Homo sapiens: one gene and its partner. The protein of the gene in region 1 purifies or fractionates together with the protein of each later gene. This does not show direct contact. Each region holds a gene or a part of one and is shown on either strand. Other genes may lie near its edges.

What was found.
Region 2: the proteins of OVGP1 (region 1) and AKAP10 purify together in Homo sapiens (affinity purification with mass spectrometry; one large-scale study listed by BioGRID and IntAct). This does not show direct contact.

What each region holds. Positions count from the first base shown.
Region 1 is NC_000001.11:111,424,936-111,429,082, reverse strand, and holds the start of OVGP1 (oviduct-specific glycoprotein precursor), read left to right. Parts: upstream 1-1,347; 5' UTR 1,348-1,361; coding exon 1,362-1,386; intron 1,387-1,991; coding exon 1,992-2,021; intron 2,022-2,441; coding exon 2,442-2,646; intron 2,647-3,643; coding exon 3,644-3,700; intron 3,701-4,147. UniProt on the Homo sapiens protein: Binds to oocyte zona pellucida in vivo. May play a role in the fertilization process and/or early embryonic development.
Region 2 is NC_000017.11:19,971,015-19,975,042, reverse strand, and holds part of AKAP10 (A-kinase anchor protein 10, mitochondrial isoform 1 precursor), read left to right. Parts: intron 1-4,028. UniProt on the Homo sapiens protein: Differentially targeted protein that binds to type I and II regulatory subunits of protein kinase A and anchors them to the mitochondria or the plasma membrane.

The DNA of each region.
Region 1 (4,147 bases):
ATGACTCCTGGTTTCTTCATACTGGAAATGAAGGATAGATGTTATATGAATTTGACCACTAGTCATTATTTCCCTGTGTCGTGGATTATATTGACATCTGGTTAATACCTCGTGAGTAGTTCATGTGGATTAGATGAGCAGCATCAGTCTCTGTGAAGGTGGGCATAAGGTCCAAGACCCTCTGTAGCAGAGAAAGAAAACTGATGAATCATAAAAGCATCTGGCTTGCAGTCTGGTAATAAAAACGGTATATATATATATATATATATATATATATATATATATATATATATTTTATCTTTCATACTCCTGTTGTTGCATTTTTAAAAAACTGGCTCTTAGATGTCCAGAATTGTATCCATCATATTCTTGAGGTTCATGACACATCCTCACAATTGGCTCATATACTGACTCAAATATTGTTGACTCATAAAAATTCAGGTTTTGCCTTCTCCTGAGAAACTGAAGGATCCAGCAACACTGGGTCTGTTTCCCTGCAGGGAAACCATTAGCAGCTGCTCAGAGTGCTGTCCCTCTTTATACTGATCTCTGTTGTCTCCTGACCAAGAGGCTTCATGTCAGTTGATGTACATCATTGGGCATGAACTGTTACTTTTCTAATAAAATAGAGATAGCTGTTTTATTGCATCTACACCATCCATTTACATTACCTGCCTGGCAAGCGTCATCTGAGTTTGAGAACTCTGCTCTGCTGGGCAACCCTTTTGACATCCCTAATAATAGCTACCATTCACTGAGCCCTTATTATATGCGAGCACGAAACTAACAATTTTTGACCCATTATCTCTTTGATCTCTATAAAGCTCTATGAGGTAAGTCTGAGCTGTCATCTCCATTTTACAAGCATGGAAACTGACCTCACAGAGGCAGGTAATTTGTGCAAGATTACAAAACTTCTAAGTGGTGACACTGAGATTCAAACTTTGAATTCAAACCTTGGATTCAAAGCCTAAATCCAAAGCTATGGTTTAAACTTTTTTTAAAAATTACGCTGCTTCCCAGCCAATAATCTTTTAATAATAGAATTGCTGCTACCATATGGGGTTTCTCCCCCATATTCAGTCCCTGTGGTACTGAATACCAGGAAGACCCTCTTCCTGGTATTCAGTGCCAACCTGGTGCTGTTGCTTTGTTGGAGAGGGAGGCCAGGTCGTTCTGGGGTCACTGTGACTCTCATAAATTACTGATCCTGGCACTGGGGTGTGTGTGTGTGTGTGTGTGTGTGTGTGTGTGTGTGTGTGTGTGTGTGTGTATGTGTAGCTGGGCTGTCCCAGCGCTATCCACAGGGAAGCTCCTATAAAGGGCTGCATCTCTGGACTCACAGCTATCAGACCATTGAGATGTGGAAGCTGTTGCTGTGGGTTGGTGAGTGTGGCAGGTCCCAGCAGTGTCACTCAGTCCAGGAAGTGCCAGGCTTTATGAGTTCGTCATCTCTCTGGTGCCTGAGAGAGCAGCCTGAGACTCAGGGAAGCCTAGATTAGGTAGAGATGGGATGGGCCATAGTTAATGGTCAGAGGTCAGAGGGACCCAGGGAGAAGTGGTCAGAGCAGTGGTTCTCAAACCTGGTGGCCCATTAGAAATTTTAAATGCCTGAGTTCCACCTTGGACCAGTTCTGTTAGAATCTCTGCATGACCAGCCAGGATATCAGTACTTCTTAATTTGCAGCCAGGGTTCAGAACCACTGGCCTCGAGCTTTTTCTGGGACTTCTAACACTTGTCATTGTCCCTGGGCAAAGCATGAGCATATACACATGTTTATCAAAAAGAAAAGGAACTTATATCTAGCTCCACTGGTCCAACTTTAGAAACTAGGAAACGAGTAAATGGTGTGTGTGTCCCCATTTGTGTGTCTGCATCTGCATAAGGTGGTGTGTTGGTGGGCACCCTTGCTAATCAGAGGGTGTGCTGTGCCATACCACTCTGGTGAGGGTATGAATCTCTGTGTGACTCCTTCCTTTGTTTCTCACAGGGCTGGTTCTTGTGCTGAAACACCACGATGGTAAGGAAACTGTGTTTTCCCTTCCAGAGCCAGGGAGAGTCTCTGGCTGAGAAGTCCTCCACATTGAGTGTCCCCTGCAGCCCACCTTGCCCTGGCTTCTCTGACAGGGATTATTGATCCAACACAGTTTCTCAGAGGATTTTTGGTCACCTGCTGTTTGTGTCGCTGACTGTGTGCCTTGGTCCAGACTTGAGAATCTGTTCTGACCAGGATTTCACAAGGCATTGTTTTCTTCCTGAGACCTCAGCAGTGGGGGAGGAATAGAACCTCAGTGTAGTTCTGAGGTGTACTTCAGGGCCAGGGAGAGAGGATGTGAAAATGTGGCCTGGTCTCTTGGGCTGCGTTCACATTGCTTTCTGGAAGCTGAGCTCCATCCCCTCCCTTGGTTTTTGCCAACTAATGTGTGCTCTCCCTTACCAGGTGCTGCCCATAAACTCGTGTGTTATTTCACCAACTGGGCACACAGTCGGCCAGGCCCTGCCTCGATCTTGCCCCATGACCTGGACCCCTTTCTCTGCACCCACCTGATATTTGCCTTTGCCTCAATGAACAACAATCAGATTGTTGCTAAGGATCTCCAGGATGAGAAAATTCTCTACCCAGAGTTCAACAAACTAAAGGAGAGGTGTGTTCATATTGGATGTGGGGGTTGTATTTTCAGATTTCACAGGTATAAGATAACAGTCTATTTCTCCTGTTACTCTTCAACTTTCTTCTATTTCTTCCAGTCCTACCTTCCTCTCAAATAGGGGTCCAGAGCACCCCCAACTTGAGAACTCCTTGTCACAGACACCTTGAGCTCTTTCCTGCCTCCTTACTTTTGTAGTTGCTGTTGTCTCTGCCTGGAATGTGCTTCTCTCTCTTCTCTGCCTGGCAAAACCCAACTCAGCCTTTGAACCTAGTTGTGAGGATTTTAGTTATTAATGCTGTTAAAGTGGGCTTACACATCCCAAATGCTCAACAAATGCTCATGTTTTTATTACCGTTTGTTACCGGTGAGCTACTCCAGGGAAGGGGCAGTGTCTGCTGTGTTGTTGTATCCCCAGTGGCTAGGTCAGTGTCTCACACAGGGTTGGTGCTCAGTAAGTGTTTGCTTACATTTTCCTCTCTCCGGAACTCCTGGGATCTCTCTGTGCCCAAAGGAAGGCTTGTTACTGCATTAATGGTTATAGATGGGCAGAGTAAAAGTTCTATGCCACTAGATTATAAACTCCCTGAAAGTGGGGAGCTTATCTGTGTTGTTCTTTGTTCTAAAGTGCCTAAAGCAGTAAATGGCACATAGACATTGCTCAATAAATATTTGTTGAATAGGAAAAAGAGAAACATTTTAGACTGCTCTTTTTTTGGAAGCATCATAGGGACATGCGCGAGTTTGGCAGACTTTGTGCAGCCTTGGAGTTGTTGGGCTGTGATGGCCCTTGGGTTGATTGTTCTCTCTGTCTTTCCTCCTCTCTCCTGTGCTCATCATCTCTCTCCTTCTATCACCTTCCCCCTTTTCCTTTCCTTACCTCCCATCTCTCCTGTTTCCTGTTTTCTTCCAATGAGCAAAATAAAAGAATGTGGCAGCAGCTGCCCACCGGAGTGAAGAACCCAGCTCATCAACCCTCTCTCTCACATCATAGGAACAGAGAGCTGAAAACACTACTGTCCATCGGCGGGTGGAACTTTGGCACCTCAAGGTGAGACTTTGCTGTTATTCTCTTCTCCCTGGGAGGGTGGAGCAGGCTGGTTAGACGTGAAGACAGAGGGGGAAGGCAGCTTGGCCATGCGGACAGCAAAGCTAGCGCAAATACTTCCCCAACTCATGAATCTTAGACCCCTGCACTCAAGGGATATCCTGGCCTCTTCTCCATGGTGGGTCAGGGGAGACAAGGAAGTTCTAGCAGGTGGTGAGAAAGAGGCTGGGGGAAAATTAGGGACAAAATGAGGCACTCATAATTGTTTCCTCAACCTTTCATAAGAGGCAAGGGTTTTGTCTCCAAGGGGAGGAATCAGGTGCAGGATGAGAATAACTCCCAAACCTCACAGGTTTCTTCACTTTATTAGTGGATCCAGGGATATCAACCTCAAAGGGTTGGAACAGAGGAAAGGAAATAACAAAATGCTAAGCTTAGTGCTGGGACATA
Region 2 (4,028 bases), on another chromosome or scaffold:
ACAAAATACAGAAAGAATATTAATTTAAAATTTTGAAAGAGGAGTGATCTGAACTTATATCTTAAAAAGATCATTCTAGGGCATGGTGGCTCATGCCTGTAATCAAGGGCTTTGGGAGGCTGAGACAGGAGGATCACCTGAGGCCAGTTCGAGATCAACCTGTACAGCATAGAGAGACTCCATCTCTACAAAAAGAAAAAATAAATAGCTGGGTGTTGTGAGTTATTCAGGAGGCTGAAGCAGAAAGATCACTTGAGCCCAGGAGTTTGAGGCTGCAGTAAGCTATGATCCCACCACTGCAACACAGTGAGATCTTGTCTCAAAAAAAAAAAAAAATCATTCTAGGTGCTTTTTGGAGGCTGGATGTGGTAAGAGTAGAAGCTGGAGATGGTCCTGTTAGGGATTCGATTCAGACTTTAAATACCATCAATGCATTGAGTCCCAAATTTACATCACTACGTTGGATCCTTGCCCCTGAATCCAGACTGGTATATCCAACTTTAGGTTCAGTTTGTATCTCTACCTGACCAATATAGAGGTGTCCAGTCTTTTGGCTTCCCTAGGCCACATTGGAAGAAGAATTGTCTTGAGCCACACATAGAGTACACTAACGCTAACAATAGCAGATGAGCTAAAAAAAAATCGCAAAACTTATAATGTTTTAAGAAAGTTTACGAATTTGTGTTGGGCACATTCAGAGCCATCCTGGGCCGCGGGATGGACAAGCTTAATCCAGTAGATACCTTCAACTTACAATATCTAAAATTTTATGCCAGATTTAGTCATTTTAAACCTGCTCATCAGTTTTTCTCAAGAAGTAGTATTTTGGCTTTTTTTCTTTTCTTTTTTTTGAGATGGAGTTTCGCTCTTATCGTTCAAGCTGGAGTGCAGTGGCGGATCTTGGCTCACTGCAACCTCCGCCTCCTGGGTTCAAGTGATTCTCCTGCCTCAGCCTCGCAAGTAGCTGGAATTACAGGCATGCGCCACCATGACCAGCTAATTTTTGGAGACAGGGTTTCACCATGTTGGTCAGGCTGGTTTTGTACTCCTGACCTCAGGTGATCTGCCTGCCTCGGCCTCCCAAAGGCTGGGATTACAGGCATGAGCCACCGCTCCCGGCTGCATTTTTGGATTTTTAGTTGCTCAGCCCAAAACTTTAGTACATCTTTGAACCTCTTCTTTCCTCCTACTCTATATCTGATCCATCAGCAAATCTGTTAGGTCTACCTCACACATATCGAAATCCTACCACGTCTCACCATCTGTGACAATTAACACCCTGGTCTAGGCAGTCATCTCTGTTAAGATTGAGTGGTTAAGGATGTCCTCTAAGGAGATGACATTCAAATCTTAGCTTAAATGTCAAGAGGGAGCTGGTTTTATAAAGATTGAGGAGGCAGCATTATTTTGCCATAGGCTTCCATTTGGTTTCCATTCCATTCTTGATACTTATGGTATATATTCAAAACAAATGCACAGAAACAGACCCAGGTATATTGGGAATTTCGGATATAGAGTTCCTAGTTGGGAAAAGATAGACTGATCTGTAAATGATGCTAGTTATCCATCATCTGGCAAAAAATAATTTCCTGCCTCCTCTCATATATCTCAGATCAACAGACTTTTTCTGTTAAGGGCCAAATCATAAATATTTTAGGCTTTCCAGACCATATGGTTTCTGTCACACTCTCCTTTATCCTTGAAGCCATAGACAATATGTAAACAAATGGGCATGGCTGTGCTACGATAAAACTTTACTTACAAAAACTGGTAGTGGGCCAGTTTAGGCATGGCCAGCACTTTGGGAGGCTAAGGCAGATGGATCACTTGGGGTCAGGAGTTTGAGACCAGCCTGGCCAACATGGTGAAACCCTGTCTCTACTAAAAATACAAAAAATAGCTGGGCATGGTGGTGGGTGTCTATAATTCCAGCTACTCTGGAGGCTAAGACACAAGAATCACTTGAACCCAGGAGGCAGAGGTTGCAGTGAGCTGAGATAGCACCACTGCACTCCAGCCAGGGTGACGGAGTCTTAAAGCAAAACAAAACAAAAGGTAGTGGGTTGTATTTGGCCCATGGGCTGTAGTTTGCCAATCCCTGATGCAGAAACAAATTCCAGGTAAATAAGAGCCTGGAATGTTAAAAAAACAAAACTTGAAGTCATGTAGAAGAACAGGTAGGGGGAACAATCCTGATCTCAGGATAGGAAGGGATATTGCTTAAAATAAGACACAGGAAAATATAATCCATGTTGTGTAAATTTGACTACGTTAAAACTTAAAACTTTCGCCAAGCGCGGTGGCTCACGCCTGTAATACCAGTACTTTGGGAGGCCGAGGTGAGCAGATCACCAGGTCAGGAGATTGAGACCATCCTGGCTAACACGGTGAAACCCCGTCTCTACTAAAAATACAAAACATTAGCCGGGCGTGGTGGCGGGCGCCTGTAGTCCCAGCTACTTGGGAGGCTGAGGCAGGAGAATGGCCTGAACCCGGGAGGCGAAGCTTGCAGTGAGCTGAGATCGCGCCACTGCACTCCAGCCTGGGCGACAGAGTGAGATTCCGTCTCAAAAAAACAAAACAAAACAAAGCAAAAAACCTAAAACTTTCATACAATAAAGTATACCTAAGATACTTCTAGAAGAGAAGATTTACATCCAGGACGTGTATGGAATTTCTGCAAGTAATAAGTAAAAGACAAGGGACATGAAGAGGCAGTTCACAAAAGAGGAAGCCAAAATGACCAATAAACATGAAAGGATGTTTAACCTCAAAGGAAACAAGGAAATGAATTAAAAACATCAAATGCCATTTCAAAACTAGTAAGTTGGCAAAATTAAAAATACCAAGGATGAGAATATGAAGCATGGCTATATGAGTGCATGGAATGGTACAGTCACTTTCATTAAAAATGCACATAATTTGTTTTTTATTTATTTTTTTGAGACAGTCTATGTCGCCCAGGCTAGAATGCAGTGGCATGATCTCGGCTCACCACAATCTCTGCCTCCTGGGTTCAAGCAATTCTCCTGCCTCAGCCTCCTGAGTAGCTGGGATTACAGGCACATGCCACAACGCCCGGTTAAGTTTTGTATTTTTAGTAGAGACAGGGTTTTGCCATGTTGGCCAGGCTGGTCTCGAACTCCTGACCTCAGGTGAGCTGCTTCCCAAAGTGCTGGGATTAGAGGCGTGAGCCAATGCTCCTGGCTGAAAAAAATGCACATAATTTGTTACCTAGCAATTCCATGTCTAGAGGCTTATCCTAGAGAAATTCTTGCTTATATGCATAGGAAGACGTGTACTAGAATGTTCACTAGTTGAATGTTTAAGTGAAAATTAGGAAATAAAGTAAATGTTCATTAACAGGAAAATGAGTAAAGGTATATTTATAAAACAATTAAGTAGCTAAAATGAATAAACTAGAGCTGCGTGAATGAACTAGAACTGGTTCAATAGTCATGTCAGATTATTGAATGAATACAGGTCAGATATGTATAGAGTGTCATTTGTGTAATTAATTTTTTTTTTTTTTTTGAGATGGAGTCTCACTCTGTTGCCCAGGCTGGAGTGCAGTGGCGTGATCTCAGCTCACTGCAACCTCCACCTCCTGGGTTAAAGTGATTCTCCTGCCTCAGCCTCCCGAGTAGTTGGGATTACAGGCATGCACCACCATGCCCAGCTCATTTTCCTATTTTTAGTGGCCACAGGGTTTCACCATGTTGGCCAGGCTGGTCTTGAACTCCTGACCTCAAGTGTTCCACCCAACTTGGCCTCCCAAAGTGCTAGGATTACAGGCGTGAGCCACCGTGCTCAGCCATTTGCGTGATTTTTAAAGATGTGCAGAATAATGCCATTAAAAAAAATACACATACATGTATATATATACACGTTTGGCTGGGTGTGGTGGCTCACACCTGTAATCCCAGCACTTTGGGAGGCTGAGGCAGGAGGATCACTTGAGCCCAGGTGTACAAGACTAGCCTGGGCGAGATAGCAAGACCCCATCTCAACAACAGAAAGGATAATTA